4 linked regions of the Homo sapiens genome follow. Each later gene encodes a partner of the first gene's protein in a complex. Each region holds a gene or a part of one and is shown on either strand. Other genes may lie near its edges.

Region 1 (7,651 bases):
GGGGCCCCTCTCCCATCCTTGCTGGAGTTCTCCTCACACCTGGCTCCATCCCCATCTTCCTGCCCTCCCAGCTGCTGTGCTCTTACAGCCCCTCAAGCCAGCCGGCCCACATAATTTGCATCGTCAGGACGGATCTACTGATGCTTGCACGGTCCTGATGGGAGTGAGGATGGGAGGGTCAGGGTTCCTGCCCCATGGCTCCCACTCCTCCACTATTCTCAGGCCCTCCCCTCCCTGGGTCCTGCCTGCTTCTGGGCCTTTTAAGCTTGTCCTTCACGGCCAACCCGGGGCTGGCACTCTGTGCAAGGCTTTGGGGCACTCATGCTGTGGGGCCTGCAGGGCCACCAGGCTGTGGATGGGGGCCTGGGGCAGGCTCTGCTGGTCTAGGACTCTGGGCTGTGGAGGGTGACCCCACAGTCCGTGGCTGTCTCACAGGGATTGCGGTGGGCCATATCTACTACTTCCTGGAGGACGTCTTCCCCAACCAGCCTGGAGGCAAGAGGCTCCTGCAGACCCCTGGCTTCCTGTGAGTGTTGAGAGCCCTCCCTCCCTCTCCCCACCCTCAGAAGGATCCCCACCGATGGGGACCTGTGCTGGCCTGTGCTCAACACGGGCCCCTCCCCACAGAAAGCTGCTCCTGGATGCCCCTGCAGAAGACCCCAATTACCTGCCCCTCCCTGAGGAACAGCCAGGACCCCATCTGCCACCCCCGCAGCAGTGACCCCCACCCAGGGCCAGGCCTAAGAGGCTTCTGGCAGCTTCCATCCTACCCATGACCCCTACTTGGGGCAGAAAAAACCCATCCTAAAGGCTGGGCCCATGCAAGGGCCCACCTGAATAAACAGAATGAGCTGCAGTCTCTTGGCCCACAGCACTGGCTTCCCCATCTCACCTGGCCACATCCTTCTATGCCTGCCCCGTCCTCACTCAGTGTGGCCTCTCAGCCCAACTGCAGGTGGTAGGATAGGGGTGCCCACAGAGGGCAAAGAAACTGCCCATGGTTGCCTGGCAGAGCTTTGAGCTCACAGGTTGCCAGGCAGAGCTTTTGAGCTCACAGGTGACAGGCTCAGGGTTCTCATCCTGGCCCCACCAGGGCCTTGGGCAAGTCCTGCCCACCATAGGCCTCTGCTACCTGCCAGTCAGCGGGGAAGTTCACCAGATTTCGGCTGCTGGGGCCAGGACAGGCGTCTCCTAGGTTGTGCCAAACCAGCCTACAGATGTTCCTGCCAGTGGTGCCTTCAGGCTGATGCCAATCTAGCCTCTCCTGTCTCTCATCAGCCACCCTGACAGGTGGGCGTATGCCTCATTTTTCATCTGGTGATGCCAAAGCCCCATGGATTCAGGTGCAGAAGAGGGCCAGGACTAGGTCTTCTGCCCTTTCTATGACCTCAGAGCCTAAGTTTTCACCTTAGCAGAGTTCTGAGACTGGGTGAGGCAGGGACTTCTGGAAGGTTCTGTTCCTGCCCTTTTTAGCTGAGGACGTGTGTGAGCCTTATCCGACCCCTGTGGCTCATTTTTCTCTTCTGACCTGGCAGCTTTCCTTGTTGTTCTAAGCCTGTCCATGTTGTGGTTTATTTCTGGATGCTCAGTGGCACGGGGCCTCCTCCAAAGACAGGTTGTCATTTTCATGGTAACAACACTGTTCTCTGTTGAGTCTGCCCTCCGTGTTGTAGCCAGACCTTGTGGAGATGGCTTTGCGGCGGTGTGAGCTGGCGGTCAGGAGTGAGGGCCCAGCCTTCCCGGCACCTCCCAGCCAGGTGGCCCTGCCCGACCTGTGGGGTGAGGCAGCCAAGGTTCCTTCCATCCCCCCAGTTGTGGAGACACAGGGCTGCCTCACCCTTTCATTGCCGAGGTTCCTACCTCATGGACAGAACAAACACCTCAGCAATGAAACCTGTTCATGTCTAAGAGCAGCTGGGCTGGGAATCTTCCCCTTTGTTCAAGGCCTTCCAGTAAGGCCCAGCTGTCCCCTTGCTGTGCATGGGGCTCTGGGGAGTTCCACTCTTTGATGGAGGGCAGAGGCCCTGAGTGCAAACTCCCTGGGAAGAGTCCCATGCTAACATGTGCTCAAAGGAGCCCTCCTCTCACATCTCAGCGACCAAGAACCCCAATCCCTAATCAGAGCTCTGCCTCTGCCCCACATGGGGCCCTACCCCACTTCCAGGGAGCACAGCAGCCTCTGACCCTAGCCCTGCCCTGGCAGCATGGGACCTGCCAACAGCTGAGGGTGGCAGCAGTCTGTGCTGGGATCTGTGCCCGGATCTGTGCCCATTCTCTTCAGTAAGGCTGGAGCTGCGAGCCAGTTTGCTGCCCTCCCAGATCCTGTGTCCATTCTGAAGAATGGGGACACCTCCCTATTACAGATGAGAACAGAGGGGACATGAACTCCTTGGAGGCAGGGCTGGGAAGGGACCCTGGGCTGTGTCTCCTCCCTGTACCGTGTCAACTCCAAGAGCTGGCACCAGGCCGGGAGGGCTATTCCCATATTCCTCACAGCTGGCTTGTAAGGCAGGAGCTGGCCCAGGCCACAGCACCTGCTGGGGTGGGAAAGGGCCCCAGCTGACCTGGCTATGGGTGCCACTGGAGCTAGAACAGCCCTCCTGCACCCAGGCTGGCGACAGCCCAGCAGTGCCCACACAGGACTGGGCCCTCCGCAGGGGACTTCAGAGCAGCAAGGCCCCAGCTGGCAGTAGCCTGACCATCTGGACACAGCAGAGCCAGGGCGGCCCAGGGACGGCAGGAGAGCTCGCGGCACCTTCCTGAGGCCAAGCAAGGGGAGCAGGGTTAGGGCTGTTCCTGAAAGGCAGAGAGCCTCTTGCCCTGAGCCTCACAGCTACTCTTCTCAGCTCTCTGGGTCTGGAAGGAGAACAGGCTGAGGGGAGCTGAGAGGAGCTGAGGTGCTACCCGGAGCCCCATTCACCCCCACCTGCCCACTTGGGAATCTGAGGCAGAGGAGGGTGAGGCCTGTGTGCCAACCTTGTTCACATACCACCTTCGTCCCCCCAGGCCCCGGCCCCACTCCTGGCTCTCATTATTTTTATGTTAAAACTTTGAAGAAATTGAACATGACCTGTTGAAGAAATTGAACATGACCTGTTGCCTTTTATTTAAAAACTGTTACTAGCCCTGCCTGGGGCTCCTATACAAAAACAAAACACAACCTAAAATAAGGTTTCTTCCTGACCCCAGAGACTGGGGAGGGGTAGGGAGGGTGGGGTGGGGGGCAGGACTGGGGCTCAACAAATGGAATGTGTGCCGGGAAGGGCCACCTGGAAGCCCCCACTCCACCCCCACCCGATCCTCAGGATGGCGCTGGGCTGTCCCCTCGCCTCTGTCCTTGCCAGAAGATGGAGGAGAGGCGGCCCAATCTTCTGAGATGCTCCGTGGGAGCCGTGTGCTGATGGGCTGGTTACCAGGCCGGGGCCGTGTTGGCAAGACGCCTCATCCGCCTGGAAGAGGAGTGGGGAGGGCAATGAGTCGGGGCCAGCTCCCAGCCTGGGCGCTGCCCTTCCCAAGGCTCTACAGGGCAGCCAAGTGTAGGGGTGGGAACAGAGGCAGGATGTGGGCCCCCAGCAGGGTCAGACCCAGCCTTCTCTCAGCCTCGCCTGTCTGCCACTCAGGCCCTGCTCATCACTCCAGGGACCCCAAAACCTGGATCTGGGCTGTGGTCAGACCCTCAGCCTGAGGAATTATGTTTGTTCCATGCAGGGAAACATACCCTGGCGTTTGGATGGGGCCTTATCACCCAGAAGCCTGCCTGCCTCTAGCAGCACTAGAGGTACTCTGTCTCAGAGACCATGGGAGACTGGGAAAGGCAATGGCCCTGCCTCTGCCTGGAAAGCCAGGTGCCTGTGGGCAGAGCCCAGGACCACAGGGCCAGGGGTACCTCGTGTTCCTGTCCTGGTCGCGGATCTTCTTCTCCATCTCAGCGTCTGTCAGAGTCTCCAGCAGTGGGCACCACTGGTCCGCATCGCCCGTGTTCCGGATGGCAATCTCCACTGTGGGCAGAGGGTTCTCGCTACGAGGAGGGGAGGCAGTGAGAGGAATGACTTTTCCAGCTATAGATGGAGAATCCTCAGAAAGCTTTGGCCCCTGTCTGTGCCCTGCTCCTCCCAGCAGCACTGCTGGCACCCAGTGGATGCTCCAGTCACCTGAACCTCAAGGGAGCTGCTGGAGGCGCCAGGGCCTTTCCATAACAAGTGTTGTCGCCATGACCCCATGGGCTTCCCTTCAAAGTGAACTTTCAACAGGGCTTTTGTGCCCAGCGTCTCTCTGTCTCTGAGATGGAGGAAGGGGCCACTGGCTGTGGAGGTGGTCCTTGACAGGACAGCACGGGCTGGACCATGCTGATGCCACAGTGCCAGTCAGGAGGTGGAACCTATAGGGGCAGGAGGACTGTCTGCTCCACTCAGTGTCCAGAGCCAGGGCCCACTGATCAGGGAAAGGGGATGGATGGCGAATGGGAGCAAAGGAGTCTCCCAGAAGTCCCCAGCCCCCCACTACTGAGGGCCACTGCACAGCCTGTTCCTGCATGTTCCACACACTTGCCCCTCAGCCCACCTCCTGGCCGAACAAAACCCCCGAGAGGCTGGTCTGTGCTTAGGATCAGACAGCTGTCTGGCAGGGAGCTGGACAGAAGCCGTATCCCCGGACCACACTCTGCCCTGGGTCTCACAAGGACCACCCAAATCTGCCCCGAGGTACCTTCCTCTTGCCAAAAGGACACAGCAGAGGAAGGGGGCAGCAAGGGCAGAGGCTAAACAGGCATGGGGTGGGCACAGGAGTGCTGGGGAGGTGGGAGGGTGGCTGGCTGCCGCCTCTCTGGGCTTTGATTTGCAAGTCTGTGACAGGACACTAAGGAGACCACAGCTGTGGATGCCACAGGGCCCGTGTGCCTCCCACATGCAGTGGTCCCGTCACCCCCACCTCTGAGAGCAGCTTTGGGTGCTGACAGTGTTTCCCAGTTGAGTGACACCAGACCCCTGGCTTGGCAGAAGGCCTCAGCCTGAGGTCCTAACCATGACTCTCCCACTTCCCCTCCCCTCTCTGTGGTCCTTTCCTTTCTCCTCCACTTGGGCACCTCCACTTGGCTCTCCCTAGGCTCAGTCCCCTGGGAGAAGGACACCCTGCCAGCCTGCGGCCCTGAAAAACACCATGAGCTCTGGGAGAAGCAAGGGCAGGCCGGACTCGGGGGAGGCGCCAGGTGGACACTGATAGAGAGGACAGGTCCCTGCAAACCTCATCTGGAATATGGAAACATTTATTGCTGTGAAGGGCTTTGGAAGGATGACTGTTATTAAAGCAGCCAAAACATCTCCACTGAGGGAGCTTCCTAGGGGCCAGGGACCTTCTCACAGCCTCCCTGTAGTGGGTGGCTCAAGGTTGTGGGACCAGCCTGCTTGCAGAGCGAGTCCCGGCTCTGCACATCCACACCAGTGAGCACACACCCAGCTCCAGTAGCCGTGAGCCCGTTCCAGGTTGGGCTCAGTGCTGCTCTCCTCAGCCTGGGGTCTCAGGGACTGTGGGCACAGCGCAGGGCACTGGCTGCAGCTGGCTCTCCCTGCAGCAGGCCTGACCCCTCACAGCTGAAGCTCAGCCCACCAGGTCCATGCTCATGAGTCGCAGAAGCTCAAGCTCGTACTGGTGACGCAGAGGCAGGGCCAGAGGCAATGTCGGCACCCCCACCCTCTGGGGCTGACCCATCCTCAGCAGCTCCTGACAGCTGGTCCCTGGCCAGCACCGGGTGGTTTAGCAGTCTAGGGACCACCCTAGCCTCAGACCCCAAACATCATTCCTCACCGTGAGGGCTCCCAGCAGCCTTCCTTGGAGGGCAGACGTGAAAGGTACCAAGCCCACAACGAGGGGAGCAAAACATGTTTTCCTCTTAAACAAGAGCTGGCGAGTGGGTCCCAGAGGGTCCTTTGTTTACCTCCCCTTGATGCTGGGAATATTCCACTCCAGTGGGTTTGTTCTAAAGTAAGAAATGCTCGCACCAACCATGTAAGAACGGGCCTAGAGCCAGCACTAGCCTGCCTTGGGTTTTGGGGGCATGTGGGCATGGAGATGCTGTCCTGAGTTCCAAAGAGTGCTGGGGACCCTGGGAGCCACCCTGCTCCCCATTCCTTCCAGGGAATTCTGGTTCACGGGCTTCGAAGCCGCCAGGGACCCCAGACCTTCCTACCACCCAAAGTGTCCAGGTGGGGACAAAGATACCCAGGCAGGGGATGCTCACGTCTGAGGGACAGAGGGAGCCAGGACTGATGCCGGTCGAGTATCTTGAGGTTTACTTTCAATGTGATCTCACTTTCATGACCTCATGTGATGCAACACACAAGTATTATCCCCAAGTTACAAATGACAAAATACAGACTTCAAGGGAAAATGACCTGTCCACAGCCACTCGACCAGGAAGGGGAGATGCCAAAACTTGGTGTCACCCTTATGTTTGCAATTCACACCTCCGAGGCCGCCAGGAGCCTCAAATGATTTTTAGAAGGGTGCCAAGTCCACTCAATGGAGGAAGAGCAGTTTTCAACATGGTGCTGGGGCAACATGACTCTGGATTGACAATGGATTCTTAGATATGAAACCAAAAGCACTAGCAACAAACTAAAACAATATATAAATTACAGGCCTGGTGCAGTGGCTCACACCTGTAATCCCAGCACTTTGGGAGGCCGAGGCGGGCGGATTATGAGGTCAAGAGATGGAGACCATCCTGGCCAACATGGTGAAACCCCGTCTCTACTAAAAACAAAAAATTAGCTGGGTGTGGTGGCAGGTGCCTGTAGTCCCAGCTACTTGGGAGGCTGAGGTAGGAGAATCACTTGAACTCAGGAGGCGGAGGATGCAGTGAGCCAAGATCACAGCACTACACTCCAGCCTGGTGACACAGCGAGACTGTCTCAAAAAAAAAAAAAAAAAAAAAAAAAAAAAAAAAGATAAATTGGACTACATCAAAATGAAAACTTTTGTGCTTCAAAGAACACTATCAAGAAAGTGAAAAGGCAATCCTCCAAATGAGAGAAAATATCTTCAAATCATGTATCTATCTGATGAGGGACTTCTATGTAGAATATATAAAGAACAATTACAACTCAACAATAAAATAAAACCCAATTAAGAAACTAGCAAAGCACTTTCTCCAAAGAAGATACACAAACAGCCAGAAATACATGCAAAGATGCTCAATATCATCAGTCATTAGAAAAATGCAAATCAAAACCACAATTACTTCACACCTCCTCAGACGGCTACGATCAAAAAGAGAACAGCAAATGCCAGCAGGATCCAGAGAAACGGGAATCGCACGCTTCTGGTGGGAATGCAAAATGGTGCAGCCACTTTGGAAAACAGTCTAGAAATTCTTCAAAATGCTAACCACTGAGTTGTCACGTGACCCAGCAATTCTACTCCTGGGTATATATCCAAGAAAATTGAAAACAGATGTTCACACAAAAACTCATACACAAATGTTCTCAGCAGCAGTACTCACAATAGCTGAAAAATGGAAACAACCCAAAAGTCAATCTGCTGATGAATGAATAAAATGTGGTATATCCATGCAATGAGATAATATTCAATCATAAAAAAGAATGAAGTCCTGATAAAAGATGCTACAACATGGATAATCCTTGAAAACATTATGCTA
Region 2 (7,879 bases), on another chromosome or scaffold:
ACCTGGGAAAATTAAGGATCATATGTCATCTTTACTCTGTGTATCTTAAGCACCAAGTGGTGCTCAGTAAGTATTTGTTCATAATAGAATTACATTTTGTCCCTGATAGTTTTATAAATCTCAGCATTTAAAAAAAATTGCTCTTTATATATTTGAGGGAGGACCCCGGTACTCTTAGATTTGACATTCCTGTTTTGACTATTTAAGAGCAGCCCTAACCCTCCATGCATAGTAAATTATAATTTTGCTAAGGATCAAGTCTAAATCATATATTCAGTGAAGATGAAGCAAACACAGAAGCAAGTTACTTAGCTAATGAGAGACCAAAGTCTAGCACCCAAAATCTCCAAGAAGCCTACTTTTAAATTTTTGCAACTTCGTTCCTTTGCAAAAAGTAATTCTCCTAAAAAGCCAGTCATTTTTTGCAGATCATCAAAGTGGGAAGGTTTAGGAAGTATAACAGAGGAATGATTGTTGGCCAGAGAAGAGACCACTAATTAATATTAGGGATGGGATATTGAATGGGGTAGCAGCTTGGGGCCAATGGCATCAGCCGTAGGCTCTGTGGGTAAACCAAAACCAATTTATACAACTGCTGAGCAAGAGTCCCAATCAGTACAAAACCACATTCTGTAAGGGAAACTACAGTGGAATGCAAAAATCTATGTATTTGCACAGGTCTCAGTTTATATTCACAGAATATGTCTGGGATCTAGTGTGGTTTAATAAGCTGTTCAGCGGTGCATAGCTGATTAGGCACTATTTGTTTAAAAATTCAAAGCAGCACAGATTTTTGGAGCTGGGAGGGGCTGAGCATCACCTAATTGATGCCAGCAAGGGCTTGTCCTGAGTCAGCCACACCCCGAAGTACAGCAGGACCAGGCAGAGAATGAGAAAACAAGCCCCACATGGGAAGGCAGGTAGGCAGAGAAGAGAGGGGCCACATACAGATGCCACAGATAGACATCCATGACCTCAGTGAAGGTTTTCAACAACCCTGCCCAGCAGCCAACATTCCAGGTAAGGAAACTGACCCCCTGCTGGAGTGCAGAGAAAATGGGTGCTGAGGCCTCCAAATGAGCTAAGGTCTGACCAGCTCCAAGCCCATGATCTTACCATTGTGTCAGGATGCCTCATCATAGAAGCTTATTCGCTCACAAATCCTCAGAATCACCAAAATAAACTAATACACAGCAAACATGCCAGTCCCCTCGGAATTATGTCTGCTTCTTCAGAAAGATACTTGCTCAGCAGTAGCAATGTTCCACATTCCTATTTCCAAGGTCATTTATAATTCATTAGTTAGAGTGAATTTATTATAAAATATACCAGTGGTAACAGAAAATTTAAAGGGCATTAAAATGGGTGTGTAGCTTGATATATGGTCACTGAATCTTAAAAGGTGGTTCTCAAGATTTCACAAATTAGACGCCAGCTTCTAAATGAATTTTAGAATTAACAATCATTTCAATATAAGGCTATGAAATATGGTGAGTGGTTTAACTTCTAAGATGCTCATCACAAAAAGAAACAGTAGATACTAAGAATTCTGGAACTGCCTCCACTAATCATCAATGCCTCGCTTTCTGAAAGGTTTATTTCAGGACCCAGAAGCAGTAGCTGAATTTACTCCTCAGCCAGCATACATTATCTAAACAGTTACCAAAAATACCCCAGCAATCCAAGTATCTTCCTAAATCTGAACAGACTGTTTTAACTTTTTTTCCAAGAATCTATGTAATGTAGAAAACTGAGAAAAAGAAAAAGGACCATTCTATATAAATTTGAAAGTGATTATATTTTCCTTCTTTTAGTTATTATTCTCGGTAGTGAATCTATATTTCGCTCTGGCACAAAGCCAGTAACTGATTGGTAGAAATGGAAAAGAGTCACTAGATCACATCAACTATATCACAACAACCTACAATTGTTGTTGACCAGATTTTGTTTTGCCAAAATATACTGCCCCACCGGAAAAAAAAAAAAAAAAAGCAGGCCAAATAGACTGCTGACCCACATGGTTGCTATCTGCAATTTGTTTAAATGAGCCAGTTCTAAGTCAATGATGTCAGCAATACCACGATCCAGGTATGGAGGGAGCAAGCGTTAGCAGTATCTCTGCATGATCCGCACACCAACAGCAGCAATCCCCAGACCCCAGCTATTGTCTGTCTCTGGCACAGGGCTGATTAAGAAAGTGGGAGCTCAATAAATATTTGCCAATTGACTGTCTGGAGTAGATATTTATCTAACATATACCTCACTGCATACACAAATGCTAAATGTTTACACCTTAAAGAAATAACTATTGCTTCCCAGTACAAGCTCTTAAGTAACAGTTCATTTCCTCTCTGTGGAAGCTGGTGTTAAAGTACATAACTGATCTTACAAAGATGTGACTACCTATCAGCATCAGCAGCAATTCCAGTACAATTCCAATACCTTACACAAACCAAAGACGCCTGTTCATGAGACTAGGCAGGATCTAGAAGTCTCCCTTCACAGCTGCCTTTAAAATGTAATTCTAAAAGGTCAATCATCTTAATTTAGTAATTTTTCCACATACAAAGAATTTCTGAAGTTTTGCAGAGGACTAAAAAGTAAAAACATGAGGGGGAGGCACAAATTTGGTGGCAGAGAACACTATGGAAAAGGACATGGCACCACCTAGACTCTGGGTTTGCTCTGGGTTGGTAGGGGTGAGATGCCCAGAAACTTCAAACACAGAAAGAATAGAAAAAAATATCACTATAAATGATTTTCACTAATAGTGGGAAAATAAAATTAATAATTTTTAAGAGACTACAAATGCAAAAGGTGAGGGAAGAAAAGCAAGGGAAAAGTGAGAATGGTAACAGTTCATTTCCACACCCTATTATCTAACCAAGTCCCAGGTTTCTCTCAACAAATACCCTCAACCTTTAAACTTTAGAAAGGTTCCAAAAAGCTGCTTTTCAAAATTTTAATAACATAACTGGCAGTGAAACTACTAACCTTTGTAATACACATCTCCAAAGAGATCCTCAAACTCTATGAGGATTACCCCAAAGTTAGAATTGAGAGGAAGTAATGTACTAATAAAAAACAAAAACAAACAAACAAAAAAACCATTAGCATCCTGATGGAATGTCTGCGGAAGAATTTACTCACAAACTATGAAGTGATAAGATTAATGGTTACAAAAACAAGATTATTTTACTTACAATACACATTAGCAGCTAACAATTTTAAAAGAAAGAGAAAAATATTTTTATTTCAGTTTGAGAAGGAAAAGTTCTGGGGATAGATGATGATGGTGACAGCCACACAACAATGACAATGTACTTAATGCCACTGGAATGTATGCCTAAAAATGGTTCAAATGGTAAGTTGTATGTTATGTACGTATAGCTTACCTCTATTTAAAAAAAAAACCATATATTTAATTTTTTAGCATCCCATTACAAAAAAAGAAAAAATGTAGCATTATGGTCCAGGATTTCTTCTGGATTTCATCAAATATGGCTTCCCTTCCAGAGTCACCTGATAAGGAATGGCTTCTGGTCTAGTTCTCCAGCTCATCATTCATCAAGGCCCAGGAAGACACTGAGAAGTGCACCTTACAGAAGATGGTCAACAGAGGGTGAATCTCCTCCAGATTCTGCTGCCATCTACCTGATTTTAATAATGGAAATAAGAGTAGCTATTCATAAACCAGATAGGCTTAAGATTTTAGGGCTTTAGTCTGGTGCCTGGTAATAAATCTCATCCAAGAAACAAGTTAATTTCATCATTAGTTCATCTGTCAAACTCAGTAGCCTTCTAATATTCTTGGCATTGATCCATACAGATGTGGGTTTGAAAACTGCCTACTGGATCCTATTTAAGTAAGTAAATCTTGCCTGGCAGGATGGTTCACATCTGTAATCCCAGCACTTTGGGAGGCCGAGGAGGGTGGATCACTTGAGGTCAGGAGTTCGAGACCAGCCTGGGCAACATGGCGAAACCCCATCTCTACGAAAAATACAAAAATTAGCCAGGTGTGATGGCGTGCACCTGTAGTCCCAGCTGCTTGCGGGGCTGAGGCAGGAGAATCACTTGAATCTGGGAGGTCAAGGCCACAGTGAGCCAAGATCGCGCCACTGCACTCCAACCTGGGTGGCAAAGTGAGACCCTGTCTCAAAAAGAAAAACAAATAACTAAATGTAAGGAAAGAATTTTCTTAGAATTACTCCAAGTCAAAGATTTTGAAAATAGAACATATTTAGTGAAAACTTACAGTGGAAACACATATTCTACTCTGAAAAAATTCACTCACTCAAAGTGAATTGCTAATTAAAACTATATAGTATATGTCTATCATTCCATTCATTCAGATGTCAGTATAAGGAAAAACAAATGAATACTTAGGACACTCAGGTAATGACTGATACCTAAGTCATTTTATCTTTACCAAATTTCCTGAAGAAAAAGTTGCTAAAGTACACCAAGTTTTTAGATCAGAATTAATTCACTCAATTACCCAATTAAACCAAAAGGGCCATTGAGTCTCATTCAAATAGCCTCCAAGCTAGAGAAAAGATATTTATAATAGTTCTACATCTATGATACAGAAATATATTCTTGGTAGAGGAACAGTTTTGCCTGGTGCCTCTCCCGGACACGACAGGGAACAGGGTTTGGGATTCCTCAGCCTCAAGCAAGCACACACAGCAAGCGTGCGGCACTACTTTACATATCCACAGAGAACCTGCAAAAACCTCCCTCCCATTCAGGAAAGGGCACCTCCGAAAAGGCATGCAACCAAAACCACCCAATCCCAAAAAGGCCTAAGAGGTGGATACGGCCCCTTGAGTAATAACAGCAGTGTAAAATGTCATAAAAATTTTATAACATCCAACTGGAAAACCTAAATATTGCAAAAAAAAAATGGAATTAAGTTTTATTAATATTTTCAGCCTCCATAAATCTGTCATTTTATGCAACACACCACACTTCTATCAAACATAAATATCAATCTCAAATTTACAAATCTACACATACACTCCAAAACAAAAGTGACACGAGTGAAATATCAGTCCCTTTTCCACCCACATGGATCAAAGCACACAACCCCATGAGCTGAGCAGTGTCAGTCCAGTGTAGAGCTGCAAGAAAAGCCTCCAGATTGAGGACACCGGCAAAAAAGCGAATACAGAGTCCTAGGCCAGCACATCCAAAATTTACATCCCCAGTGAGTCTCCAAACGGAGTAGAAAATTTCATGGAACCCTAACAAATGTTCATCAAATCACTCATCTCCTAGGAAAGGGTAGGGTTAAATAAATGAAATGATCATCTTTTCGGTTTGCCTGTGATATTGGAATTTATCCTAGGAAAGCAAGTGTTCCTATTACATCAGAAGTCATCTTTTTAGATAGATACACCCTGCCCAGAATCATAAAGAAATAAAGTCTATTAATAAAAAATAGAACTGAAAACTCAACCGCATTCTATTACACCTATTCTCTTTAAAAGGTATCTGTGTCTAATAAAACGATCAAATGAGCTTATATTAAGTCTTCCTCTACATTGTCTTACATTTTTAAAATCAGTTCTCAAATCAGAATTAATGTTTTTTTTTTTTAAATATCAGAATAAAGACGTTATTTTCTTCAATTTCAGTAAAGGAAAATGACATTCAGAGGTTAAGTATATTAGTAAAAGTGTCCAAGTGTGATCTGCATTATTTCCACATCCATAACACACTTCTGATACACTATGACATTGAGAAAAATGGAACAAGTATAAAAAGCCTTGCCAAAAATTCATGACTAAATATAGACAAGCAGAGCCAAAGCAAAGAGGGGTTAAGGTTCCTCATTATAGATTCAAGGTAAGGATGTGCTAGTCCCTAGCATATACTTACTGATGTAGTATTAATATAAACATAAACCTAAGTGATAGCTGTCTTAAAGAGTGGCTACCACTAAAAAAAAAAAACTACCAAAATATTGTCAAAAGTATGTACCACAAAAATCAGGACTCCCAATGAAAACGATTTTAAGCCATGCATAATTTCATCCCAGATGATTCAGAAAACAAAACTGCAGACATTTGTTATATTTTCTTTTCCTGTTTTTTAAATGATAGGCCCTTTCCATTAGCCACAGTTACTAAGTCCACCTTTTCTAACTATACACAGCCATCCATACTTTGGCAAATATATAAATTTAGGCCACAAAAATTTGTTTACAAGATTTAAAATATCAGACACCCTAAAATTTAACTGGGAGTGATTTTATCAAATAATGTATCTCACACACATTTTAAGGTAATCAGGAACCAGTTTGTAGCTTCCTGCTTCGCATGCTAGCTAATCACTTTTCTTCTAATGGTAAATAAGGCCCTTTTCTTAATACATTGTACTACGTTTTATAAAACTAAAAGTTAAAACTGCATTTATGGAATTCAGTAGAAATGTGGACATCATAAAACCTATGTGCGTGAGTAGACCTCAATATTCCTTTTGAGACTGCTCCATCTGAATACTCATCTTACAAAAATCTAGTAATAAACTGAATCGTCAAATGGCTTATTTCACTTTTTAAAAAGACCCTTCTCCTATAATATATACACGTTTTGTCCCAATTACGAAAACATTTGCCACCCAATAGAAACTATTTCCTGAAATCAAAAATGAAACTAAAAACATATTAAAAGCCAAAATATTTCATCATTTAACAATGTGATTTAATAGCATTTCATGACCTACAGTCAGGCAGTAATTTAATATTTTGGACAAATGACTGTTTCTTAGTATAATTACAACAACTAATACTAAATAATACTAACTTCCAAAAAGAAAAGAAAAAAAAGGATTGTAAAAAAGACACATTCCACATGTTACACGGTAAGGTACTTAAAAGAAATTCCTGAATCTAGGTCGCATGTCCATATTTCCCCCAACCTCAACAAAAAAAAAAAAAAAAAAAAAAAAAAAAAGCCTATTCCCAAGGGTCATAGGGACATAATGGATTCATTCTCATTACAAGAAAACAAAATACTGAAAATGATTGGTACCATTAAGAAAAAAATACTCTAAAGTAACATGGTCCTACATCTGCCTCTAACTTCATTCGTCTCTAGTTTACGAAGATGTGAATTTTAAACTGCTCCTTTAAAAGCAGGCTGACAAAGCAAACCTTTTTAAAATTAATTACGTGGGTTTATTTCCATGATTCTTCTCTATAATGTTTTTCCTCGTGTGAATCAAAAACAAGTTGAAATCACAAGTTTTCTATTAAGAATAGAAAAATCTATTATCCTTAAAAGCAAAACTCCAATAACTAAAGATCTGAAAGCAGTGGACAGCAGTGTTCAGCCTAGGATTCACAAGATTATTTGTTAAATTCAGCCCTTCCTTCACTCTGACAAGTCTCTAAGGTATGATTATTGTTAAAATACCTCTTCCTAAAATAAATGAGTTACATAAAAATATACATACAACGACTGTTGTTCCTCTCTAACAGATTAGGATTTTTTAAACTTTCATAGCATTAACATGAAAGAAAAATTATTTGGAAAAAAAGACACCCAGCACAACTTGCTTAGAATATAGTTTCCCTAATTCATCGTGTAAGCAGTTCAAACAAGGCTCAAATTACCTAATCTAACAAAACAATGAAGAAAAAAAAAAGATTATGGGGCATTTCTGTATTCTCCACATCAAAAGCAAATATGAAATGATTCTTAGTATTTCACAGGAATATCTCATTTTTCCCCTTTTAATTATTGTTATCTGCACAAATATGTGGTTTCCTCATTTCGTTTTTTAAATATGTCAATTCTAACCAAAACTCCTCATCCACAAATATCTTTGAACAGTCAGAACTGATAAATCACAAAAAAATGAAGCTTAA
Region 3 (7,879 bases), on another chromosome or scaffold:
CCCTGGAGGACCGAGACAAGCCGTATGTCTGTGATAGTGAGTCCTTCTGAAGAGGGGGAAAGGCAGAGAGAGGGGTGCCCAGAGACTCCCCACCTCGTGGCCCTCTCCCTCCCGTTCCAGACCCGGGTTGGGAGGCTGCTCAGGTCTCTGGCTGAGGGGGGAGGTGTGATCCTGGAGGCCAGGGTGGAGGCGGCAGGGGCCCGGAGGGGCTGACAGGCCCTCCTGGCTCGCTCGCTCCCCAGTCTGTGGGAAACGGTATAAGAACCGGCCGGGGCTCAGCTACCACTACACCCACACCCACCTGGCCGAGGAGGAGGGGGAGGAGAACGCCGAACGCCACGCCCTGCCCTTCCACCGGAAAAACAACCATAAACGTGAGCTGGCAGGCCAGGTGGGGGTGGCCAGGGGCCCTGGGAGTGGGGAAGAGGAGCCCAGCTGGGGGTGGGGGTGGGGGGGCATTAGACATTTCTGGAAAATCTCCAGCTCAGCCGTTCCCTCCCCCCACCGACCATGGGGATGCTGGCTCCGGGGTTGCCATGGCAACCAACCATCGCTCCTTCGCTCCTGGCCGGGCGTAATATTTCTGGGTCTGATTTATTGTTTCAATTAGAGCTTGGGGAGGGGGGGTGATAGATGGCTCCCCTCCCGCCCTGCCTTCCCTTTCTCCTTTCTCTGCTAAGCTTTGGTCAAGGGGCAGGGTCTGTGGCCTGGGAGCCCTTGGCTTCCGCCCTTGCCAATCCCATGCCAGTTCTGACAGCTGAAGGATGGGGGAGGGGAGGAGGGTTTGGGAGAGGCAGTAGGGAGACACTGTCTTCCCACCTATCTCTCAGAGGCAGAGGCTGAGTGTCTTCACCCCTGGCCACTACACACCCACGCACCTCAGTGTTCGGAGTTTTTCTTCCGAGTGTCTGTTTCCATACCAGATCTTGGCTGGGGTACTCGCTGAATTTGTTAGATACAAATTACTGAGGGTGCAGTTGGGAGTGGCTGGCTGGGAGACATGTATGTGAGAAGGGAGGCAGGGAGCCCTTCCTCAAGCTGTCTACCAAGTTTTGACCCAATAAAGAGGACATGTCAGTTGTCTCAAGGAGTTGGGAATCCTGGCTGGGTGCAGTGGCTCACGCTTATAATCCCGCCACTTTGTGGCAGTGGCCGAGGTGGGAGGATCACTGGAGGCCAGGAGTTGGAGACCAGCCTGGGCAACATACCAAGACCCTGCCTTTATTTTTAATTGAAAAAAAAATTTAAAAAGGCAGAGTTGGGAGTCCCGATGAGAACTGTTTTCACCTCTCCCCACAGCTTGGGGTAGCTACTCACTCTTCCCAGCTCCCCACGCCTGGACTAAGAGGTCCATCCTTGGGGCTGAGGCTGGGGGCAGGGTGGAGCCTTGCCTGTGGTGAGAGTCCCTCTCTCTGTCCCCCCTACCCCAGAGTTTTACAAAGAATTGGCCTGGGTCCCTGAGGCACAAAGGAAACACACAGGTACGGATGCCTCCTTCTGCTCCTAAAGTCTGCAGCCACCTTTGCGGGGTGCCCTTGCCTGCCCCGTGCCAATGCCTGTCTGCTGTCTTGCAGCCAAGAAGGCGCCCGACGGCACTGTCATCCCCAACGGCTACTGTGACTTCTGCCTGGGGGGCTCCAAGAAGACGGGGTGTCCCGAGGACCTCATCTCCTGTGCGGACTGTGGGCGATCAGGTGATGCTCCCCACCTGAGGTTTCTGGGGGCCGGGTGCAGAGGACATTCAGGAGTGCAGACCTGGAGGGAGGGAGGCAAGGCGGTGAGGACCGAGGGGACCCGGAGCATGTAGGGGATACTGTGGATAACCAGAGCTAGCGAGGCTGATGCAACTGCTGAGGATTGTGGGAATTGGGTCGGATCAGTGAGGCTTTAGGGATAATGGGATGTGGCTCTCATGGCACTGTGGGTAGCTGCCTGTGCTTAGCATGGCATCAAGAGTAGTGAGAGGCCAGGTGTGGTGGCTCACGCCTGTAATCCCAGCACTTTGGGAGGCAGAGGTGGGAGGATCACTTGAGGCCAGGAATTTGAGACCAGCCTGAGCAACATAGCAAGACCCCCATCTCTACAAAAAATTTAAAAATTATCCAGGTGTGTTGTTGTGCACCTGTAATCCCAGCAACTCAGGAGGCTGAGGCCGGAGGCTCCCTTGAGCCCAGGAGTTTGAGACCAGCCTGGGCAACATAGTGAGATCCCATCTATATATAAAAAAAGTTAGCTGGGCATGGTGTTGCACCCCATTAGCCCCAGCTACTCGGGAGGCTGAAGTGGGAGGCTCGCTTGAGCCCAGAAGGTTTTTGTTTTGTTTTGTTTTGTTTTGTTTTTTGAGACAGAGTCTCCCTCTGTCACCCAGGCTGGAGTGCATTGGCATGATCTTGGCTCACTGCAACCTCCGCCTCCTGGGTTCAAGTGATTCTTGTGCTTCAGCCTCCCGAGTAGCTAGGATTACAGGCACCCGCCACCATGCCTGGCTAATTTTTAATATTTTTAGTAGAGACGGGGGTTTCACCATGTTGGCCAGGCTGGTCTCAAACTCCTGACCTCAGGTGATCTGCCTGCCTTGACCTCCCAAAGTGCTGGGATTACAGGCGTGAGCCACCGCAGCACCCAGCCCCTTGAATCTGGGAGTTTTTGACTAGCCAGGGCAACATAATGAGAGCCCATCTATTAAAAAAAAAATAGGCCAGGCTGGGTGATGTGGCTCACATCTGTAATCCCAGCACTTTGGGAGGCTGGGGCGAGCAGATCATGAGGTCAAGAGATCAAGACCATCCTGGCCAACATGGTGAAACCCCATCTCTATAAAAATACAAAATTTAGCTGGGTGTGGTGGTGCGTGCCTGTAGTTCCAGCTACTCCGGAGGCTGAGGCAGGAGAATCGCTTGAACCCGGGGCTCAGAGGTTGCCATGAGCCAAGATTGCACCACTGCACTCCACCCTGGGTATCAGAGCAAGACTCCGTCTCAAAAAAAAAAAAAAAAAAAAAAGGCTGGGCATAGTTTCGCACCCCATTAGTCCCAGCTACTCGGGAGGCTGAGGTGGGAGGATCGCTGGAGCCTGGGAGGTCAAGGCTGCAGAGTGCACTGTGATGGTGCCACTATGCTGCAGCCTGGGCAACAGAGTGAGACCTTGTTTCAAAAACCAAAACAAGACAAAAGGAGTAGCAAGAGACAGGGGCCAAGGCATGGCAGGTAGTGGGCTGTGTGGTGTGAGTGACGGACACCACCACCTGGGCACCGGTAGCAGGATGAGCTCGCCATAGAGTTGTGGTTAACAGAATGTGGTTTCCCATGGTGGGCTTGTGGGCAATATAGACTCTGGTTGCCTCAGCACAGTAGGTCATGAATTGTGGTTGTCGTGGCATCATGGGTAGTGAAATATGGTTGTCATGGCAACTCAGTATAATGGAATGTAGTTGTGATGGCACCGGGGCCGTGGTTGCAGGGGGCGGGCGCCATGGGTCGTGGCTGCAGGTAGCGGCTGCGGGTGTCTCTGCAGCGGGGCTGTGGAATGACTAAGCCTGGCGCTGCACAGTGCTGTGATGTGAGTAACAGTTTTGTTGCTGGGGCACCAAGTGGAATGGACTTCAGTTGCATGAAACCGAAGTGTGGGGACCCCGTTGTGGAAGGTGGTTGCCATGGCATTGTGGCTGGGAGAGTGTGGTTGCCACGTTGCTGTGGTTAACAGGACCCCTGGCCGTTCTGCTGTGGGTAATGGAAAGTGGCTGTCTCAGCACGGTGGTTAACAGAATGTGGTTGCCACGGTGTTGTGGGTGGTAGAAAGTGGTTGGCACAGCACTGTGGGTAATGGAATGCGGTTGCCATGGCGTTCTGGGGAGCAGAGTGTGGTTGCCATGGTGGTTGTGGTAGGAGACTGTGGTGGCCGGGGGACTGCTGCCGGCCACGTGGTTGCTGGGCAGGTGTGGGGTCAGGCTGTGGATCCCGGCAGCTCATCCTGGCGTCATGAGCCAGGGGTAGGGGCTGAGCTATGGCTCCCCTGCCGGTCAGTGCCCACCAGGGGCACGGTGACCTCCTAACTGCACCCCTGCCCCTTGGCCCCCAGGACACCCCTCGTGTTTACAATTCACGGTGAACATGACGGCAGCCGTGCGGACCTACCGCTGGCAGTGCATCGAGTGCAAATCCTGCAGCCTGTGCGGAACCTCCGAGAACGACGTGAGTGCCGCCCGCCCCCCGCGTGCCCTGCTGCCCGCCCCGCCTGGCACGTCCACCTCTGCCCCTTAAGCCTAAAGCCTGTGCCTGAGCCTTCCCTGGTGAACACCAGTCCCCTGTGTTATCATTATGCCGGTGTCCATAAATCGAACCTGGCCCTTTTTCCTCTTCATCTCTCTGGATCCTCCCAACCACCCTCTGAAGCAGGTGGTCTTGTTTCCACTTCACAGGGAAGAAACTGAGCTCAGAGAGGGAAAGAGACCTGCCCAGGGTCAGCCAGCTAGGGAAATGGCAGAGCTGAGATTTAAAGCCATGACCACTGCTGGCAGAGCTGGTATCAGATCATCTTAGGGTTGTTTAAAGCCTTCCACAGGCGGAGCGCGGTGGCTCACGCCTGGAATCCCAGCACTCTGGGAGGCTGAGGTGGGTGGACCACCTGAGATCAGGAGTTTGAGACCAGCCTGGCCAACGTGGTGAAACCCCATCTCTACAAAAATACAGAAATTAGCTGGGTGCCTGTAATCCCAGCTACTCGGGAGGCTGAGGCAGGAGAATGGCTTGAGCCCAGGAGGTGGAGATTGCAGTGAGCCGAGATGGCGCCACTGCACACTCCAGCCTGGGTGACAGAGCGAGATTCCGTCTCAAAAAAAAAAAAAACAAACAAAAACAAAAGCCATGACCGTTTCTGGCAGAGCTGCTATCAGATCATCTTGGTGTCATTTAAACTTCCCACAGACCGGGAGCGGTGGCCCACCTGTGTAATCCCAGCACTTTGGGAGGCTGAGGAATTTTGAGCCCAGGAGTTCTAGACCAGACCAGCCTGGGCAACATAGTGAGACTCCCGTCTCAAAAAAAAAAAAAAAAAAAAAAAAGTCGTGCATGGTGGCGCACACCTGTAGTCCCAGCTCAGGAGACTGAGGCAGGAGAATCACTTGAGCCCCAAGGAGTGTGAGGCTGCAGTGAGCTGTGACTGCACCACCGCACTTCCAGCCTGGGCAACAGGGTAGGACCCTGTCTCTAAAAATATAAAATAATAATAATAATAAGCCTTCCACAGAGCCTTATAAAACCCCCACTATAAATCGCAAAGGGACTGTCCTGAGGGATATGTGTTTGGCTAAGCAGTGTTGCGCACACATTTCCTGCTGCAAAGACCTTCTCAGAACCTTTCTCGGAAGGCCTCACCTCCCCCAGCCCCCTTGACCTAGCCCCTGCCCCAGCCCCCCACCCCCGTTTCTGGTGCCCGTGCCCCCAGGGTGCCAGCTGGGCGGGTCTCACCCCCCAGGACCAGCTGCTGTTTTGTGATGACTGCGATCGGGGTTACCACATGTACTGCCTGAGTCCCCCCATGGCGGAGCCCCCGGAAGGTGAGAGGAGAGGTGGGCATCCCATGGGGCGGGTGGGTGGGAACGCCATCTCCTGGTTGTGGAAGACTGTGTGTCCTCGGGGTGGGAAGGGGCTGGGGCAGCCCTCCCGGACCCGGGCCTGACTTCAGCTTCGGCTGCCCCCGCAGGGAGCTGGAGCTGTCACCTCTGTCTCCGGCACCTGAAGGAAAAGGCTTCTGCTTACATCACCCTCACCTAGGCCGGCTCGGCTCGCCGCGACTCTGGGGTGGTGCTCGCCTACCTGCCTCTCCGAGCTCCTCAATTCTCCCCCACCCTGAACATCCCGCAGGGGGAGGGGGAGAGGGGGAAGCCGAGAGGGGGCTGGGCCACCCCCTCCCCTCTGTGCAAGTGGAATGTCTGCCCTGTGGGTGGGTGGGCCCGGCCAGGGCCTCTCCCTCCCTCCCTCCCTCTCTGTCCCTTGGCAAATGGACACCAGGGGCTTCTCCCCTCAAAGCCATACCCCGCCTCTGGGCGGGCATGGGGGGTGGTGGGTGCCAGCCAGGGGCATGGACAGAGCCTTTTTCTAAAGAAAAAGACAAAAAGTTAAAAAAAAAAAAAAGAAGAAAAGAAAAGAAGTTAATATATACAAAGAGTCCTCCAAGGCCTGGCTGGGTGGAGGGGCGCTGCTGAGAGTGTCCACCGGGCACCCGCCTCTGCCGGCCCCCCGCCGGGCGCCCCAACCCCAATTTCTGGAGCTGCAGCCGTCCCGCGCCCCACCCAAGGTGGGCGCCTTCCCCTCTTGTGCCCAGGGCGGTGGGCGTGGTGTCCACCCGCCCCTCCTGGTGCCCACGGTGGATACTGCATGATGTGAACCTTGGTTTTGAACTCTGTTCCTGCCCCTCCCCGACCGCCCCAGCCTGTGCCCGCCCCGTGCCTGCCGTGGCTGGTGGGTGGCGGTGGTGGGGCCGGGTGGGCCCCCGCCCAGCGCCTGCTGGAATGAGAAGCACAGACTCCGCCACGGACTCCTTTTCTCTCCCTCCTCCCGCCCCGCCAGGCCTGGCGGCCCCCGCCCCCCTCGCTGGCCATTTTGGGGGAGTGAGGGGGCGTGGTTGTTTCTTGTGGTTGTGTGTGTTTGTTGTTCGGGTTTTAAAAAAGGGAAACTGAGACTGCAGGTGGGGGAGGTGGTGGGTTTTGGGGGGATGTCCCCTAATCCAGGAGTGCCCCCTCACTTGTCACCGAGTCTCCTCTATTGCCTGCCTCTGCTGTGAATTAACTTGTTCTGTGTATTAAACTGGGCCTGACCCCTCTGCCCACGACTGCCTCGTTCTCCCGTCTGGTTTGGGGCATCACCAAGAAGGAGGACCGGGGGTCGACGGGCCTTGTTGGGGGTGAGGCGACCAGCCAGCCCCTACCTCCATCCACCTCCTTCTTCCCCTGCCTGCACCCTGCCTCTCCCCGGCTTTGTCCCAGCTCCGCCCTGCTTTGCCAGAAAGGAGGAGAAGGGGGATGGGGTGGAGGGGCTCCCGCCCAGCCAGCTGTGGTTGCCCTGGCAACGGGCTGCTGCAGCTGCAGCGGGCGCAGCCGGGAGGGAGGCGGGAGCCGGGCCGGGGGAAGGGAAGGGCTGGGAAGAGGACGGTGGGTTGGCCCCTCCTGAGGCTGGGGTGGGGAACGGGGGTGTCAGGAGGTGTCATCCCAGACCCAGACATCTCCAGGGGGCTCCGTGTCCTGGATGTGGGGCAAATCAGCGGTGGCGATAAGGTGGAAAGAGAGGCGCTAAGGGAGGGCAGGAGGGTATCTAGACACGGGCACTGGGAGAGAGACTGAGATGTGGGCGACGGGTGGGGGGCGGGAGTGAGGAGTGAGGGAACTAGGACACAGATCAGGAGAGAGAAAGAGACGAGGACAGTCACACAGTTATTGAGAGAATCAGAAAAAAGAGCAAGAGGGTGCAGAAGGGAGAGAGACAGGAGGAAGGACCAGGAGAGAGGAAGGGAGCAGGGGTGAGAAGGAGGTTTAACGGCAGAGAGGGAATAACTAATAAAAAATAGCTGACATGCTGGGAGAGACGGGAGGAGGAGAAGGAGGACGGTGATTGGGGAAGAGCAGCAGCAGATTTAGGGAGAGGTCCTCCAAGAGGGGAGGCAGAGAAGGAGGTAACATCTATCAGGAGAGGGAAGAGTGAGAGGGAGCCACATTGCGGGTGGAGAGAGAGAGACTTGGGATCAGGGGCAGGCAAAGTCCCAGGACAACAGGCAGAGATGGGGAGAGACGCGGGCGGCAGGGGAGAGAAGGAGACAGACTTTAGGGGAACAGCAGAACAATCTGCAGAGAGAGCCGGAGGTATGAGGGACCCAGAAAGATTGGGGA
Region 4 (7,879 bases), on another chromosome or scaffold:
TCTTTATTTTTTTATTTTTTGGTCTAAAATAGGCTTAACAGCATTGCGCAGTGATGAAGTGATTGATTTAATGATAAAAGAATATCCAGCCAAACATGCTGAGTATTCTGTTATTCTACAAGAAAAAGAACGTCAACGAATTACAGACCATTATAAAGAGTATTCCGTAAGTAATTGAGGTGACTGGCATTTTTTATTTGGGTTGGGGAAAATGACATTTTAGAAAGTTATATGTGACTTCCAACTGTATTTTTTTTTTCCAGCAAATGCAACAACAGAATACTCAGAAAGTTGAAGCCAGTAAAGTGCCTGAGTATATTAAGAAAGCTGCCAAAAAAGCAGCAGAATTTAATAGCAACTTAAACCGGGAACGCATGGAAGAAAGAAGAGCTTATTTTGACTTGCAGACACATGTAGGATAACTTAAATTTAGTACCCCCTGAACTTAGTTTATTACTTGTTATTGCAGAGTGCCCATCACCCCCTTTATCGTTATTTTTTGTACCACCTATGTGTGTGTGTTTTTTTTGTTTGTTTGTTTGTTTTGTTTTGTTTTTTGTGGCAGAGTCTGTGTAGCCCAGGATGGAGTGCAGTGGCATGATCTCGGCTCACTGCAACCTCCGCCTCCCGGGTTCAGGCGATGCTTCTGCCTCAGCCTCCCCATTAGCTGGGATTACAGGCGCCTGCCACCACACCCAGCTAATTTTTTGTATTTTTAGTAGAGATGGTGTTTTACCATGTTGGCCATGCTGACACCTGCGTGTTCTTTTTTTCCTCAGAAGTTGAGATGTTATTTTTAATGGTGTGCTTAATAATACTCAATTTACATTTTTTTGTGAGATGTCTTTTGCTTTACGGTTAATAATTCTAAATGAGACTAATAATAGCTACATATCATACTTGCTGTGCGTCCCAAGAGTTTTTAAGAGATTTGCATGTTAATTCTCATAGTAACCATGTGAGGTTGGAACTAGGATTACTTCCATTTCATAAAGAAATTGAGCTACAGAGAGGTCGTATAAGCTACCCAGATCACTCTGCTGTTAAGTAGTGAGCAAGAGATCCACTGCCATTCCTCAGGAGAATAGGCCTTTAAAACAATAATATATAGAACTGAAAGCACCAACTGTCCTCTTAGGTTATAGCTCCTGATATCTCCTAAAATTTTAGCTTTTCGAGGGGGAAGTGGGCGTGCAGTGGTGAGCACGTGGGGACTCTTCCTAAAGCCTTGATTCTTAGCATGGAATCAGTTTTGTGTTTCTCTTTATGTTAACGTAGGTTATCCAGGTACCTCAAGGGAAGTACAAAGTTTTGCCAACAGAGCGAACAAAGGTCAGTTCTTACCCAGTGGCTCTCATCCCCGGACAGTTCCAGGAATATTATAAGAGGTATTTAGTAGTTTTAGTTACAGTTGGTATCGGCTATTGGTAAGGGGTTTCAGAGCCTTTTGTACTTGCCTCCTAACAATTTTGGGGTCTATAGATATCACCGTAAGATATCGTATAGGATTTGTGTTGCTATTCTTCTCTGGTTCTGTGGTAAACAATACCCTGTAGTCAGAATTTGAATATATGCTGGTGAAGTCTAGATGCCTCTGTCTCTGCCCATTCTGTTTGGGTTTGTTAGAGACAGATGCTGGGGGTTCTGTAGCACCTCACTGCTCAGGGTATGTTCCGTGGTCCAAAGCACTGTTATTGCTCAGAAGCTTGTTGGAAATGCAGAATCTCAGGCCCAACTCTAGACCTATGACTCAGAGTCTGCATTTTAACAGATGTCTGTGTGATTCATGTGCAGGTTAGAGTTTGAGAAACACTGACTTTTACTGCAGAGAAGATGAGAGAAGGAGCGGAGAGGGGCAGGCATGGGCAACTGGGTGCCCCAGCCACATTGCTGACCTGGCCTGGCTGCTGCTCCAATATGGACCCTAAATGTTACTTATCTCCTATTCCCAAATTAAATGTAACTGAAAAAAACAGGGCTAACAGATTCTTTTTTTTTTTTTTGAGACAGTCTTGCTCTGTACCCAGGATGGAGTGTGGTAGTGTGATTTCGGCTCACTGCAACCTCTGCCTCCTGTGTTCAAGTGATTCTCCTGCCTCAGCCTCCCAAATAGCGGGACTGCAGGCACATGCCACCACGCCCAGCTAATTATTTGTATTTTTGGTAGAGGTGGGTTTTACCATGTTGGCCAGGATGCTCTTGATCTCTTGACCTAGTGATCCGCCCACCTTGGCCTCCCAAAGTACTCGGATTAAAGGTGTGAGCCACTGTGCCCAGCCCATTTTGTTTTAAAGTCTCAGCTTTTACTTCAACCTTAAGCCTTACTCTGGAACCGTATGTTTTTCATAATATACTATTTTTTAGAGAATAGAATTTAAAATATAGTATCATAACTCACACCATTTGAAAGTCAAATCTTGGGCAGAAATTTTTTAAATAAAAAAAGATTTTTTAAATTCAAATTTAAATCATGAGCAGCAATTTTTTAAAAGTTTTTCTTCAAATTTTTTTTTTTTTTTTTTGAGATGGAGTCTCACGCTGTCGCCCAGGCTGGAGTGCAGTGGCGCGATCTCGGCTCACTGCAACCTCTGCCTCCTGGTTCAAGTGATTCTCCTGCTTCAGCTTCCCGAGTAGCTGGGATTACAGGTGCCCGCCACCTTGCCCAGCTAATTTTCTGTATATTTAGTAGAGACGGGGTTTCACCATGTTGGCCAGGCTGGTCTCGAACTCCTGACCTCAGGTGATCTGCCCACCTTGGCCTCCCGAAATGCTGGGATTATAGGCGTGAGCCACTGCACCCGGCCTTTAATTTTTAAAAATTTTATTTTGGCATCAGCAAATTATTAAAAGTCATATGCAAGTATATTAACCCCTTTGCTTTTTGGTGTGTTGTCTTAGTTGGAGAAGTCTTCATCTAGGGTTGCCTCCTGAATGGGGGCTACTGAGGGTGAGAATGGAGGTGGCACGAAGCAGTGCTGTCTGACCTAGGGGAAGAGATTGCCAATATAGTTTCAGACAAAATAGATGATTAAATTTGTTAGAATACATGCTTCCCAAATTTGTTTACAATAATTGGTTACTAAAAATTTTGCTTTCTATGTTATTATTTTAAGTAATATCATGTACCATGCACTGGTGTGATATGTATGCATTAAATAAGTTAATGCATATATATCAACTGTATGCGGTAGATGCTATTATTAGGTCTGTTTTACAAATGGAGTGACAGCACAGAGAAGTAGCAAAGACCTGGGACAGTGGTCGAGGTGGATGTGAGCTGGCAGCCAGACTTGGGGCTGCTGACATTTTATTTACTTTTTTCTTTTTTTGGGTTGAGGGCAAAGAGGGGAGGCACATTATCTCTTAGTAAGAATCAAATGCATATTTTACATAAGTCTAGTGAAAAGATGTTCAGGCTTTTTATTAACCCTACTTGATGACAAAAATGAAAAATTAGTACTCTAGTTTTCAAAAGTCTTCGGGGTTACTCAAGAAGTTTAAGGCTATCTTCATAGGTCAAAGATGAGTCTGTTTATATTTAATAATAAAGGGAAACCAAAAATAAACTCTCTGAACTTCAGGTACTCACCAGATGAGCTGCGGTATCTGCCATTAAACACAGCCCTGTATGAGCCCCCTCTGGATCCTGAGCTCCCTGCTCTAGACAGTGATGGTGATTCAGATGATGGCGAAGATGGTCGAGGTGATGAGAAACGGAAAAATAAAGGCACTTCGGTGAGAACATTTCTCTCTAGTAGGAAGCATTTCCTTTCTCTTTGAATTTTTGTTACATTGAATTTCTGTCATCACCCTCTCCTTGAAAAAGGATGGTTGCATGTAATTTCCAGAAAGTATTCATCAATAAAAGTTACTTATAGTATGTTTTGATAAAAACAAGCAGTGAATGGCCTTTGGTAAGCTTTATGCTTAAAATCGCCCCTTTGTAGTTACCATGAGCAGTTTAGGCAAGGGTATGGAAAATTAGCTTACAATCATTTATTCAACTTGCTGTCTCTTTAGCTTAAAATATTGAACAAAACAGAATTTGATCTCTTGACACAGAAATGTAGTTTTCTTAGTTGAGGGGAGTGCATTTGCTTAATCTTATGCTTCCTATAGGAAAATATTATGTTTAGTAATATGTTGTACAATTTGTTGGGTTTTCCTGTATGACTTTTTTTTTTGTAGCAAAATGCACCTGCAAGACAGTGGGCAGTTGGTGTATTCTGTGCACCTGAAGGAGAATAAAATCCCAATGATGGTTTGGGGCTTTGATCCCAGTGATGACATAGGGCTTTGAATTTCTTTAGCATTGTGTTTTAAGTAACTGGCTATTTCAAACTTTTCATTGAAGCCAATGTAAATGTGAGATTGTGCTACCATTGAATGGACATTATTTCCTTGTCACCAACAGCTTCTAAAACATCTTTAATAATACATATTATGCAAAATAAGATACTGTTCAAGTATTAAAGTGGTGACACAACTTTTCTCCTGTCATGTTGCTAAAAGGGGAGCTATGGCATGCAAAGGGTGATGAAGCTGACTTCCTTTCATACTGCTAGGAAAAGTGTAAACTAATCCAACATTATGGGAAAGCATTTTGACAGTCTTACCAATTTAAGTTCCATAGTATTTGACCTAGCAAATCCACTAGTAGAATTTATCCTAAGGATTTAATCAGATGCTGAAAAATTTTAATTAGAAAAAAAGGTCCATTTGAGTGTTGACAGTATTTTTTATGCTGGAAGTTACAAATAAATTTTAATGCCCACAGTGGGTAATATTATATTACATTTATAGGATAGAAATGCAGTTCAAAGAATATTTAATGATTGTGAGAAAATGCACATAATGCTTTTAAAAAATACCAAAATACACATATGCATACACACACAGTGTAATCCAGTTTTGTATTTTAAAAAATGAGGGCACAATGAGGTAGGGGGTAATGTGTGAGTCTCGGTATCTTTATGTATATAAGTGGACACCCAGAAAAAAGATAAAGTAGATACATTCATGTTTCTAGTCAGTGTGTGTTTATCAGGGAGGCTCTAGATAACCTAATTTTTTAATTTATAATTTTTGTAATTTATATGAAAGTTCTAATTAGAACATTTTAAATTATAAAATGAAGAATTAAATGATCAGATACTGAGGTCTTAAACCTTGAATATATAAAATATTTCAGATCCTGTTGTAGATAGTTGAGGGATTGGCTCTGCATAGTTTAACATTGTGAAAACACAAATGTGTACTTGAAGGACTTTTTTTTTTTTTTCCTAACTGCAGCGCTTCATTTTTCCTGAAGGACCTTCTTAATGACTTTTAGTACTCAGTGAAAATACCCACACTTATTTGTAACAATATATTTTTGTATGAAACAAATATGTTCCCTTGTGACGGAAAATGATGTTGAAGCTGTGTGCCGTAATAGTAGCTGAAGCGGATAATTGTGTTTTTGTGACTTATGTCAGAAAACAAAGTTGATGAAGGCACTGATATGGAATCAGTTTTATATAATATACTTAGAAGAAGGAGGAATGATTTTTAACATAACTTACTTTAGTCTCCACTGGAAAAAGCTTTCTTACATTTAGAATGATCTTTTTATTTTTAAAATGATAAAGCTTTAAAACTTTCTTTGAATATTTTCCATAGTTTTCAAAATCCAGACTCAAATTTGTCTTAATTCCAAAGAATCTTTGTTTTTGCCTTTTAAACTCCAGGACAGCTCCTCTGGCAATGTATCTGAAGGGGAAAGCCCTCCTGACAGCCAGGAGGACTCTTTCCAGGGAAGACAGAAATCAAAAGACAAAGCTGCCACTCCAAGAAAAGATGGTCCCAAACGTTCTGTACTGTCCAAGTCAGTTCCTGGGTACAAGGTAGAAGAAAAAAGCCCCTGACTCAGCTTCTTTACTGACCAGCCTCTCCCTGAAATATTTTAACTTGACTTTCACGATTGTGGAGCTTCTGCCTGCTGTACCTCACTAGCTGTTCTTCTATGGTGTGCCCTTTGTCCGCTGCTTTCTTTTTTGCTTTATTTCCTTGGTGGCTTTTCTGTCACTTTTGGCTATGGTTTACCTTCTGTTTTCTGTATATGTACAATTTATAAGTCTTTTTTTTTCTTTGAAAGAATAACCAGGCAAGTATGGGTTTTTAAAACATTATTTCATAGGCAGAAGTTTATATTTTCTTTCCTTGGAGTAAAGATCATAATTATTTGGCATTTTAAATGCCCCAGCATTTAGTGTAGCTAAAGCTGCTGAGCTATAAAGTATGAGTGGATATACTGTTAGACTAAGTTGCATTTTTTTTAGTGCCTTTCATTAAGAAAGATCTGGGTTTAATCTAAGGATTATTTGATCCATATGCTAAATTTAGCTAACTCTGGGATAGAAAATAATAAAACCTGTTACTTACATTGTAGTGATTTTTAGCATAACCTTGGTAAAGAGCCTATATGATTCTATGGCAAGAATTAAAACATACTTGTTAACTTGTTGATCTGATTATCCTCAGAGTAAAGGAGTAGGTTGTCAGCAACTATTATTATATTTTGAACTTTTCCTCCCTCTGTCTGCCCCTCCCTTTTCTTCTGAAGAAAAGGTGAGGTGAGAGATGAGTAGCCTTATTTGCATATAGGGATTTAAGAATATCATAAAAGGAAGAATTAGCTGTACAGTTTCATATTTGGGATGGTGGTAGTAAAATAGACTACCTTTTGATTCTTTTGGTCTGAAATGTATTAGAACATGCTTTTATTGCACTTATGAAGGTGTATTGAAGGAAAATTTTAGAGTAAGCTGATGAGAAAGTTTTGCCAAGTGAAATTGTTAAACACCTTGTATGTCAGAACTGTGATTGTGGTAAATAATTCACAAGAACAGGCTGAAGTAAGTCACCTTTCCCTCAAACTAACTAGAACACGTTCTAACATGTTCATTTACCTTTCTTCAAGTAAAAAAAGCGACATTAAGTTAGTGTATTTCATATTTTATTAGGAAATGCTTTTATGTAATTAACTTAAAAATTCTTTTTTTTTTTTGTAGCCTATAGCAAGCAAATTTTAAGCTTAATTCAGCAAGGGTTGGCTTCCAAGGGTGGCTGCAATAGGCTGCAGCTATGTGATTTTTGTACTTGTTTTTACATATATAGCTTATGTAATTTCTTTATATAAATTAATGCTTAATAACTGAAAGCAAGTGAGCTCCAAAGATGAAATTTCAGAAGCAGTATACATGAATGAGTGTGTTCTACTGGTCTGCTAAGAGCTTTAAATGGAAGTGGCCGCTCAAAGCACAGTGTCCTGTTAACTCTTGAGTGCTAAGTAGATCTTTGCAACAGTAAGCTTGATTGATCATGGGTTAAAAAGAGAGAATATTGAAATAGATGTTTTAATACAGGCTGGAAATCAGCTATTCAACACTATCATTGATTTAGTATACAAGAAATCATATGGATTAACTGAACTTAATAGTACTCAAGTAGGATATGCAAAATTTATATTTTACATAATCTGTGAACATTTTTAGTACCTAAAAATGTTTCAGGTATTTCAAAGATGGGAACAACCAGTATCTAGTCATCATACATTAATGTGAACATGCTTATTAAAAGTTAACCTCTTTATAAAAAGTATTAATAAACCAAGATGTGCCTAAATATTAGGGTACTTCAAGCTAAAGGTCATAGTTTATATATAAAAAGTACGAGATTCAAGGAAGTAATGTATCTGATGCTTTGCTTAATAAGATTCACTAGTGCTTGCCCTTAATTCATAGAACAGTATTGTTTAGGTTACATTAACCTGAAATTTAAAGCATAATTATTAGGATTCCGGCCTATAAATACAATAATTAAAATCTATACTATATTA

Evidence for each region.
Region 2: SMARCB1 (region 1) and ARID1B share a complex: the UniProt entries of both Homo sapiens proteins name them as parts of the neuron-specific chromatin remodeling complex.
Region 3: SMARCB1 (region 1) and DPF1 share a complex: the UniProt entries of both Homo sapiens proteins name them as parts of the neuron-specific chromatin remodeling complex.
Region 4: SMARCB1 (region 1) and PHF10 share a complex: the UniProt entries of both Homo sapiens proteins name them as parts of the neural progenitors-specific chromatin remodeling complex.

Annotation. Positions count from the first base shown.
Region 1 is NC_000022.11:23,829,939-23,837,589, reverse strand, and holds part of SMARCB1 (SWI/SNF-related matrix-associated actin-dependent regulator of chromatin subfamily B member 1), read right to left. Parts: intron 4,019-7,651; coding exon 3,887-4,018; intron 3,450-3,886; coding exon 3,410-3,449; 3' UTR 2,764-3,409; coding exon of another isoform or gene 2,611-2,763; 3' UTR 722-2,610; coding exon of another isoform or gene 628-721; 3' UTR 531-627; coding exon of another isoform or gene 436-530; 3' UTR 1-435. Other genes in the region: DERL3 (derlin-3), read left to right, coding at 436-526, 2,611-2,763.
Region 2 is NC_000006.12:156,781,059-156,788,937, reverse strand, and holds part of ARID1B (AT-rich interactive domain-containing protein 1B), read right to left. Parts: intron 1-7,879. UniProt on the Homo sapiens protein: Involved in transcriptional activation and repression of select genes by chromatin remodeling (alteration of DNA-nucleosome topology).
Region 3 is NC_000019.10:38,209,955-38,217,833, reverse strand, and holds the end of DPF1 (zinc finger protein neuro-d4), read left to right. Parts: coding exon 1-36; intron 37-242; coding exon 243-374; intron 375-1,430; coding exon 1,431-1,481; intron 1,482-1,574; coding exon 1,575-1,694; intron 1,695-4,077; coding exon 4,078-4,190; intron 4,191-5,442; coding exon of another isoform or gene 5,443-5,472; coding exon 5,473-5,554; intron 5,555-5,700; coding exon 5,701-5,771; 3' UTR 5,772-6,828; downstream 6,829-7,879. UniProt on the Homo sapiens protein: May have an important role in developing neurons by participating in regulation of cell survival, possibly as a neurospecific transcription factor. Belongs to the neuron-specific chromatin remodeling complex (nBAF complex).
Region 4 is NC_000006.12:169,708,242-169,716,120, reverse strand, and holds part of PHF10 (PHD finger protein 10), read left to right. Parts: intron 1-32; coding exon 33-166; intron 167-263; coding exon 264-413; intron 414-1,278; coding exon 1,279-1,388; intron 1,389-3,581; coding exon 3,582-3,735; intron 3,736-5,729; coding exon 5,730-5,885; intron 5,886-7,879. UniProt on the Homo sapiens protein: Involved in transcription activity regulation by chromatin remodeling. Belongs to the neural progenitors-specific chromatin remodeling complex (npBAF complex) and is required for the proliferation of neural progenitors.